Linked DNA regions of Homo sapiens: region 2 is linked to region 1. The links come from fine-mapping of genetic effects on gene expression. A gene starts in region 1. The other region holds a variant in brackets. All regions are shown on one strand. Distances are from middle to middle. Region 1 holds the start of KAT8 (lysine acetyltransferase 8). Region 2 has its middle 23 kb from the start of KRABD5.

What was found. PIP is the estimated chance that this variant, and not a neighbour inherited with it, causes the effect. A credible set is the group of variants that fine-mapping cannot tell apart.
Region 2: its variant is the best candidate, but not a certain one, in a credible set for the expression of KAT8 in nucleus accumbens (GTEx, PIP 0.79).

What each region holds. Positions count from the first base shown.
Region 1 is chr16:31,115,034-31,120,180 of GRCh38, reverse strand. KAT8 (lysine acetyltransferase 8) reads right to left here and starts at 2,517. Exons shown (of 11, transcript NM_032188.3): 1 at 2,289-2,517. The coding sequence starts at 2,499. It also overlaps a transcript of BCKDK not described here. RefSeq lists an enhancer at 1,934-2,053 and silencers at 2,224-2,573, 2,473-2,699.
Region 2 is chr16:31,687,445-31,692,623 of GRCh38, reverse strand. No RefSeq gene overlaps it. Among named protein-coding and RNA genes, the nearest start is that of KRABD5, 23 kb to the left of the region's middle. The variant G/T (reference allele first, on the strand shown) is at 3,059.

The sequences.
Region 1 (5,147 bases):
ATGGAAAAAGGCTAGGGTCATCAGGAAGGTAAGGCTGGAACAAAAGGAATCCTGCACACTGAGAAGCAGTTTCCAGAGTTCAGGGCCACACATCAGCTAACCTCACTGGTCCACCTCTGCCATTCTACTCAATCACTGCCACAACTGTGAGGTGGATCAGGTTGAGGCTGTTATTCTCATTTTACGAATGAGAAAATAACTGGCTGGGTGTGTGGCTCACACCTGTAATCCCAGTACTTCTGGAGGCCGAGATGGGCAGATCACTTGAGGCCAGGAGTTTGAGACCAGCCTGGTCAACATGGCAAAACCCCATCTGTACCAAAAAGACGAAAAAAAAAAAAGCCAGGCATGGTGGCACACACCTGTAATCCCAACTACTCGGGAGGCTGAGGCAGGAAAATTGCTTGAACCTGGGAGGCAAGGCTGAGGCAGGAGAATTGCTTGAACCCGGGAGGCAGAGGTTGCAGTGAGCCGAGATTGTACCACTGCACTGTGGCCTGGGTGACAAGAGCAAGACTCTGTCTCAAAAAAAAGAACCCCAAAAAACAGAACAAAACTGAGGCTTACCTAGGGTCACAGATTTGAAAAGTGGTAAGAGCTAATACTTAACTGAATTTAAGTCTGACTCTAAATTCAATGCTCATTTTACCACATACCCGCAGTTGTTCATTTGTTCAGGGATCATGAGTGCTGGCTCTGGATTAAGATAACCTACATTAATGTATAATTCCAGGGCTGGGCATCGTGGCTCACGCCTGTAATCCCAGCACTTTGGGAGGCCGAGGTGGGTGAATCACGAGGTTAAGAGGTCAAAACCATCCTGGCCAACATGGTGAAACTTCGTCTCTACTAAAAATACAAAAATTAGCTGGGTGTGGTGGCGCACAACTGTAGTCCCAGCTACTCAGGAGGTTGAGGCAGGAGAATCGCTTGAATCCGGGAGGCAGAGATCGCAGTGAGCCAAGATGGCGCCACTGCACTCCAGCCTGGCAACAGAGAGCGATTCCATCTCAAACAAACAAACAAAAAAAAATACACAAAATTCCAGCTCCCTACTTCCTAGCTATGTGTAACTGAGCAAGTTATTCCATCTTTCTGAGCCTCAGTCTCTTCATCTGTGAAAAGGGATAACAGCTGGGCACAGTGGCTCATGCCAGTAATCCCAACACTCTGAGAGGGTGAGGTGGGAGGATCACTTGAGCCTAGAAGGTCTAGGCTTCAGTGAGCTGTCATCGTGCCACGGCAATCCCACCTGGGTGACAGAGCGAGATCCTGTCTCAAAAAAAAAAAAAAAAAAAAAGACAAAAGGGATAATAGTACCAACCTTAGAAGGTGAATTAATGCCTCCAAAATTTTTAGCAGCGCACCTGACAATTAGCAGAGCATTCAATAAATGAGTAAGGCAACCACTACGTGTCTGGCCCTATGCTGTGTTGTTGCCGGGTACAGAGGACACAGTGATGAATCACAAGAAGTGCTGCCCTCCAGAAGTTCCCAGTATGATGGAGGAAGACAGAGAGAGAAAATTACAACATAATGTTACAAAAACTATGACTGAGGTAGGAAAAAAATGTTGCAGGAACATAGAGAAGGGAACCACTCACTTTGCCTGAAGGGGAATCAAGGATGACATCACAAAGGATATGAAGCTAAGAGGATGAGTAGGAGCTAGGCAGGCAAACAAGGAGAAAGGGAAGAAAAAGCATTCCAAGCAAAGGGCACAGGTGGTAAAGGGCGTGTGGTCTTCAGAGGGCACAGTGTGTTCTGGCCTGGCAATGCCCTTTCCTAGTGTTGGCTAGAAACTGGAGAGGTCACAAAAATGAATGCCACCCTAAGGAGTTTGGGGTTAATTTTGAAAATGAGAGAAGGCAGCAGAACTTTAGGAAAGGGAAGCCTGTTGTTTCTGGAAGGTCTTCTCTCTGCGGATGGCTGCCAGGGACAAATGGAAAAAGAAGACGCAGAGACAAGAGAGGGTGAGGAAGCAGCGTTAGCAAGAAAAAGGAATGAAGCCTAAGACTGGGCAAGGAAGTGGAATGGGAACAATCCTGGTGAAGGCCTGAGCGGTGGGTTTGTAGGCGTCGCTCGGCATAATTCAAGGTCAACAGCCTCCCACAACCCGGCTGGTTTCTCAGCGCCCGGAACGCGGCGTTCTTTCCTCAAGCCCCGCCCCTCCTCCTCTCCACTCCCAGCCCCCGGATCTTGGCCTCACTGACAGCCTGTCCTCAGGCCCCGCCCCACCCCCTGGCCCTGAGCTCCGCCCCGCCCCCAGCCCTGGGCCCCGCCCTCACGCCAGGTGCTATCCGGTCGCCGGCACAGGTACGTTTCTCCGATCTCCACCGTGACTTCCGGCTCGCCGCGCGCCGGGGTCGGCGGAGAGACGCGGCCCGGGGATGGGGCGGTCCCCTCAGCGGCCGCATTCTCCCCGGGCCCGGGCTCGCCCTCCCCCGCGACCCCTGAAGTCCCCGCCGCAACCGCCGCAGCAGCTCCCTGTGCCGCCATCGCGGGAAGGGAAGTGACGCCAGAATCGGACGCCACGCAGTTCTTTTGGCTCCGGGTCAGCAGTGCGTGGGGCGGGCTCCTCAAGGTTTGAGGGCGGGGTCTGTGATGTAGCAGGAGCCGATTGGCTTCTGTGGCCGTCCCCGCGGCCCCGCGAGTTGGATGTTGAGTGTGCGGCAGTCTTGGAGCTCCTGGTTTTCCGTGCGGACCTGTGGCTGCAGCCTATGGGTGAGGAGAGGAGACAGACTTACCTCATGCGATGACTCAACTCAACCTTTTTTTAATTTATTTATTTATTTATTTATTTATTTATTTTGAGACGGAATCATGCTCTGTCGCCCAGGCTGGAGTGCAGAGGCGCGATCTCGGCTCACTGCAACCTCCGCCTCCGGGTTCAAGCGATTCCTCTGCCTCAGCCTCCCGGGTAGCTGGGACTGCAGGCGCGCGCCACCACGCCCATCTAATTTTTGTATTTTTAGTAGAGACGGGGTTTCACCATGTTGTCCAGGATAGTCTTGATCTCTTGACCTCGTGATCTGCCAGCCTCAACCTCCCAAAGTGCTGGGATTATAGGCGTGAGCCACCGTGCCCGGCCAGCTGAACCTTTTTAAAGGCCCTGGTACCTGCGGAAGCCAAGATGTGCCAATTTTCAGCGGGCGCTGCCCCCACTTTAACAGGGCAGAGCCAGAGCGGCCGCCCTGGTGGCCTGGAGCCGCACACTCGCGCTGGCCTAATGTCGCTCCCCGCCCCCCCCCCTTTTTTTTTTTTGAGATGGAGTCTCGCTCTGTCGCCCAGGCTGGAGTGCAGTGACGCGATCTCGGCTCACTGCAGCCTCCGCCTCCCGGGTTCAAGCGATTCTCCTGCCTCAGCCTCCTGAATAGCTGGGATTACAATCGCGCGCCACCACGCCCGGCTATTTTTTGTATTTTTAGTAGAGAGAGGGCTTCACCCTGTTGGCCAGGCTGGTCTCGAACTCCTGACCTCAGGTGATCCGCCCGCCTCGGCCTCCCAAAGTGCTAGGGTTACAGGCGTGAGCCACCGTGCCCAGCCAGTGCCCCATTTTTGAAGGTTGAAGAGACTACTTCCCCTATTTGGGATACAGTTGGTGCGGGGAAAGCAGAACGGGTGTGTCCAGGGACAGGCCATAATTCACCCTCACAGGATAAAGTCTAAAGAAAGGACGAGTTGGGCGGGGCGTGGTGGCTCACGCCTGTAATCTCAGCACTTTGAGAGGCCGAGGCGGGCGGAGATCGAGACCATCCTGGCTAACACCGTGAAACTCCGTCTCTACTAAAAATACAAAATTTAGCCGGGCGTGGTGGCACGCACCTGTAGTCCCAGCTACTCGGGAGGCTGAGGCAGGAGAATCGCTTGAACCCGGGAGGCGGAGGTTGCAGTGAGCCGAGATCCCGCCATTGCACTCCAGCCTGGGGACCAAGAGCCAGACTCCATCTCAAAAAAAATAAAAAGGCCGGGTGCGGTGGTTCACGCCTGTAATCCCAGCACTTTGGGAGGCCTAGGCGGGTGGATCACGAGGTCAGAAGATCGAGACTATTCTGGCTAACACGATGAAACTCCGTCTCTACTAAAAAAAAATACAAAACAATTAGCCGGGCGTGGTGGCGGGCCCCTGTAGTCCCAGCTACTCGGGAGGCTGAGGCAGGAGAATGGTGTGAACCCGGGAGGTGGAGCTTGCAGTGAGCTGAGATCACGCCACTGCACTGAGGGTTCTGTGAGAGTCAGTAAAGGTTAAAGCCATTTATATGTGTATGGTCCAACCATACACAATCGGCCCTCCATATCCGCATGTCCCACCTTTGGAGATTGAACGAAGAGCGGGTTGAAAATACAGTGTTGAGGTATGGTGGCTCACACCTGTAATCTCGCACTTCAGGAATCCAAGCAGGAGGATCGCTTCAGGCCAGGAGTTCAAGACCAGCCTGGGCAGCATAGAGACCTCCTTTCTACTAAAAATTTGGGGGAAAAAAAAAATTAGCTGGGCCTCGGGGCCCGCACCTGTAGTCCCACCTACTCAGGAGGCTGAGGCAGAGGGATCGCTTAAACCCAGGAGGTCGAGGCTGAGTGAGCTATAATCCCTCCACTGCACTCCAGCTTGGGTGACAGAGACCCTGTCTCAAAAAAAAAGGGGGGAAAGAAAAGGAGGCTGGGCGCAGTGGCTCACTCCTGTAATCCCACCACTTTGGGAGGCCGAGGCAGGCAGATCACCTGAGGTCGGGAGTTCGAGACCAGCCTGACCAACATGGAGAAACCCCATCTCTACTAAAAATACAAAATTAGCCAGGCGTGGTGGCCGCATGCCTGTAATCCCAGCTACTCGGGAGGCTGAGGCAGGAGAACCGCTTGAACCTGGGAGGCAGAGGTTGTGGTGAGCTGAGATTGTGCCATTGCACTCCAGCCTGGGCAACAAGAGTGAAACTCTGCCTCAAAAAAAAAAAAAAAAAGACTGGGCGCGGTGGCTCACACCTGTAATCCCAGCACTTTGGGAGGCCGAAGCAGGTGGATTACTTGAGGTCAGGAGTTCAAAACCAGCTTGGCCCACATTGTGAAACCCCGTCTCTACTGAAAATACAAAACAGTCAGGGGTGGTGGCGTGTGCCTGTAATCCCAGCTACTTGGGAGGCTGAGGCAGG
Region 2 (5,179 bases), 570 kb before region 1:
GAGATGGTATCTCATTGTGGTTTTGATTTGCATTTCTCTGATGGCCAGTGATGATGAGCATCTTTTCATGTGTCTTTTGGCTGCATAAATGTCTTCTTTTGAGAAGTGTCTGTTCATGTCCTTCGCCCACTTTTCGATGGGGTTTTTTTTTTTCTTGTAAATTTGTTTGAGTTCATTGTAGATTCTGGATATTAGTCCTTGGTCAGATGAGTAGGTTGCAAAAATTTTCTCCCATTCCGTAGGTTGCCTGCTCACTCTGATGGTAGTTTCTTTTGCTGTGCAGAAGCTCTTTAGTTTAATTAGATCCCATTTATCAATTTTGGCTTTTGTTGCCATTGCTTTTGGTGTTTTAGACATGAAGTCCTCGCCCATGCCTATGTCCTGAATGGTATTGCCTAGGTTTTCTTCTAGGGTTTTTATGGTTTTAGGTCTAACATTTAAGTTTTTAATCCTTCTTGAATTAATTTTTGTATAAGGTGTAAGGAAGGGATCCAGTTTCAACTATCTACATACGGTTAGCCAGTTTTCCCAGCACCATTTATTAAATAGGGAATCCTTTCCCCATTGCTTTTTTTTCTCAGGTTTGTCAAAGATCAGATAGTTGTAGATATGCGGCATTATTTCTGAGGGCTCTGTTCTGTTCCATTGGTCTATATCTCTGTTTTGGTACCAGTACCATGCTGTTTTGGTTACTGTAGGCTTGTAGTAAGTATAGTTTGAAGTCAGGTAGCTTGATGCCTCCAGCTTTGTTCTTTTGGTTTAGGATTGACTTGGCAATGCGAGCTCTTTTTTGGTTCCATGTGAACTTTACAGTAGTTTTTTCCAATTCTGTGAAGAAAGTCATTGGTAGCTTGATGGGGATGGCATTGAATCTACAAATTACCTTGGGCACTATGGCCATTTTCACGACATTGATTCTTCCTACCCATGAGCATGGAATGTTCTTCCATTTGTTTGTATCCTTTTTTATTTCATTGAGCAGTGGTTTGTAGTTCTCCTCGAAGAGGTCCTTCACATCCGTTGTAAGTTGGATTCCTAGGTATTTCATTCCCTTTGAAGCAATTGTGAATGGGAGTTCACTCATGATTTGGCTCTCTGTCTGTTATTGGTGTATAAGAATGCCTGTGATTTTTGCTCATTGATTTCATATCCCGAGACTTTGCTGAAGTTGCCTATCAGCTTAAGGAGATTTTGGGCTGAGATGATGGGGTTTTCTAGATATACAATCATGTCGTCTGCAAACAGGCACAATTTGACTTCCTCTTTTCCTAATTGAATACCCTTTATTTCCTTCTCCTGCCTGATTGCCCTGGCCACTATGTTGAATAGGAGTGGTGAGAGAGGGCATCCCTGTCTTGTGCCAGTTTTCAAAGGGAATGCTTCCAGTTTTTGCCCCTTCAGTATGATATTGGCTGTGGGTTTGTCACAGACAGCTCCTATTATTTGGAGATATGTCCCATCAGTACCTAATTTATTGAGAATTTTTAGCATGAAGCGTTGTGGAATTTTGTCAAAGGCCTTTTCTGCACCTGTTGAGATAATCATGTGGTTTTTGTCTTTGGTTCTGTTTATATGCTGGATTACATTTATTGATTTGGATATGTTGAACCAGACTTGCATCCCAGGGATAAAGCCCACTTGATCATGGTGGATAAGCTTCTTGATGTGCTGCTGGATTCGGTTTGCCAGTATTTTATTGAGGATTTTTGCATCGATGTTCATCAGGGATATTGGTCTAAAATTCTCTTTTTTTGTTGTGTCTCTGCCATGCTTTGGTATCAGGATGATGCTGGCCTCATAAAATGAGTTAGGGAGGATTCCCTCTTTTTCTATTGATTGGAATAGTTTCAGAAAGAGTGGTACCAGCTCCTCCTTGTACCTCTGGTAGAATTCGGCTGTGAATCCATCTGTTCCTGGACTTTTTTGGTTGGTAAGCTATTAATTATTGCCTCAATTTCAGAGCCTGTTATTGGTCTATTCAGAGATTCAACTTCTTCCTGGTTTAGTCTTGGGATGGTGTAGGTGTCAAGGAATTTATCCATTTCTTCTAGATTTTCTAGTTTACTTGGGTAGATGTGTTTATAGTATTCTCTGATGGTAGTTTGTATTTCTGTGCGATCGGTGGTGATATCCCCTTTATCATTTTTTATTGTGTCTATTTGATTCTTCTCTCTTTTCTTCTTTATTAGTCTTGCTAGCGGTCTCTCAATTTTGTCGATCCTTTCAAAAAATCAGCTCCTGGATTCATTAATTTTTTGAAGGGTTTTTTGTGTCTCTATTTCCTTCAGTTCTGCTCTGATTTTACTTATTTCTTGCCTTCTGCTAGCTTTTGCATGTGTTTGCTCTTGCTTCCCTAGTTCTTTTAATTGTGATGTTAGGGTGTCAATTTTAGATCTTTCCTGCTTTCTCTTGTGGGCATTTAGTGCTATAAATTTCCCTCTACACATTGTTTTAAATCTGTCCCAGAGATTCTGGTATGTTGTGTCTTTGTTCTCGTTGGTTTCAAAGAACATCTTTATTTCTGCCTTAATTTCGTTATGTACCCAGTAGTCATTCAGGAGCATGTTGTTCAGTTTCCATGTAATTGAGCGGTTTTGAGTGAGTTTCTTAATCCTGAGTTCTAGTTTAATTGCACTGCGGTCTGAGAGACAGTTTGTTATCATTTCTGATCTTTTATGTTTGCTGAGGAGTGCTTTACTTCCAACTATGTGGTCAATTTTGGAATAGGTGTGGTATGGTGCTGAAAAGAATGTACATTCTGTTGATTTGGGGTGGAGAGTTCTGTAGATGTCTATTAGGTCTGCTTGGTGCAGAGCTGAGTTCCATTCCTGGATATCCTTGTTAATTTTCTGTCTCATTGATCTGTCTAATGTTGACAGTGGGGTGTTAAAGTCTCCCATTATTATTGTGTGGGAGTCTAAGTCTCTTTGTAGGTCTCTAAGGACTTGCTTTATGAATCTGGGTGCTCCTGTATTGGGTGCATATATGTTTAGGATAGTAAGCTCTTTTTGTTGAATTGATCCCTTTACCATTATGTAATGGCCTTCTTTGTCTCTTT[G/T]GATCTTTGTTGGTTTAAAGTCTGTTTTATCAGAGACTAGGATTGCAACACCTGCCTTTTTTTGTTTTCCGTTTGCTTGATAGATCTTCCTCCATCCCTTTATTTTGAGCCTATGTGTGTCTCTGCACGTGAGATGGGTTTCCTGAATACAGCACACTGATGGGTCTTGACTCCTTATCCAATTTGCCAGTCTGTGTCTTTTAATTGGAGCATTTAGCCCATTTACATTGAAGGTTAATATTCTTATGTGTGAATTTGATCCTGTCATTATGATGTTAGCTAGTTATTGCTCGTTAGTTGATGCAGTTTCTTCCTAGCCTCCATGGTCTTTACAATTTGGCATGTTTTTGCAGTGGCTACTACCGGTTGTTCCTTTCCATGTTTAGTGCTTCCTTCAGGAGCTCTTTTAGGGCAGGCCTGGTGGTGACAAAATCTCTCAGCATTTGCTTGTCTGTAAAGTATTTTATTTCTCCTTCACTTATGAAGCTTAGTTTGGCTGGATATGAAATTCTGGGTTGAAAATTCTTTTCTTTAAGAATGTTGAATATTGGCCCCCACTCTCCTCTGGCTTGTAGAGTTTCTGCTGAGAGATCAGCTGTTAGTCTGATAGGCTTCCCTTTGTGGGTAACCTGACCTTTCTCTCTGGCTGCCTTTAACATTTTTTCGTTGATTTCAACTTTGGTGAATCTGACTATTATGTGTCTTGGAGTTGCTCTTCTTGAGGAGTATCTTTGTGGCATTCTCTATATTTCCTGAATTTGAATGTTGGCCTGCCTTGCTAGATTGGGGAAGTTCTCCTGGATAATATCCTGCAGAGTGTTTTCCAACTTGGTTCCGTTCTCCCCTTCACTTTCAGGTACACCAATCAGACGTAGATTTGGTCTTTTCACATAGTCCCATATTTCTTGGAGGCTTTGTTCATTTCTTTTTATTCTTTTTTCTCTAAACTTCTCTTCTCGCTTCATTTCATTCATTTGGTCTTCCATCGCTGATACCCTTTCTTCCAGTTGATTGAATTGGCTACTGAGGCTTGTGCATTCATCACGTAGTTCTCATGCCATGGTTTTCAGCTCCATCAGGTCCTTTGAGGACTTCTCTGCATTGGTTATTCTAGTCAGCCATTCGTCTAATTTTTTTCAAGGTTTTTAACTTCTTTGCCATAGGTTCAAACATCCTCCTTTAGCTCAGGTTTGATCATCTGAAGCCTTCTTCTCTCATCAAAGTCATTCTCCGTCCAGCTTTGTTCCATTGCTGGTGGGGAGCTGCATTCCTTTGGAAGAGGAGAGGCCCCCTGATTTTTAGAGTTTCCAGTTTTTCTGCTCTGTTTTTTCCCCATCTTTGTGGTTTTATCTACCTTTGGTCTTTGACGATGGTGATGTACAGATGGGTTTTTGGTGTGGATGTCCTGTTTGTTAGTTTTCCTTCTAACAGTCAGGACCCTCAGCTGCATGTCTGTTGGAGTTTCCTGGAGGTCCACTCCAGACCCTGTTTGCCTGGGTATCAGCAGCGGAGGCTGCAGAACAGCGGATATTGGTGAACAGCAAATGTTGCTGCCTATTCGTTCCTCTGAAAGTTTTGTCTCAGAGGATTATCCGGCCTTGTGAGGTGTCAGTCTGCCCCTACTGGGGGGTGCCTCCCAGTTAGGCTACTAGGGGGTCAGGGACCCACTTGAGGAGGCAGTCTGTCCGTTCTCAGATCCAAGCTGCGTGCTGGGAGAACCACTACTCTCTTCAAAGCTGTCAGACAGGGGCATTTAAGTCTGCAGAGGTTTCTGCTGCCTTTTGTTTGGCTATGCCCTGCCCCCAGAGGTGGAGTCTACAGAGACAAGAAGGCCTCCTTGAGCTGTGGTGGGCTCCACCCAGATCGAGCTTCCCAGCTGTTTTCTTTACCTACTCAAGCCTCGGCAATGGCGGATGCCCCTCCCCCAGCCTCACTGCCGCCTTGCAGTTTGATCTCAGACTGCTGTGCTAGCAATAAGTGAGGCTCCGTGGGCATAGGACCCTCCAAGCCAGGCGGGAGATATAATCTCCTGGTGTGCCGTTTGCTAAGACTGTTGGAAAAAGTGCAGTATCAGGGTGGGAGTGACCCGATTTTCCAGGTGCCATCTGTCACCCCTTTCTT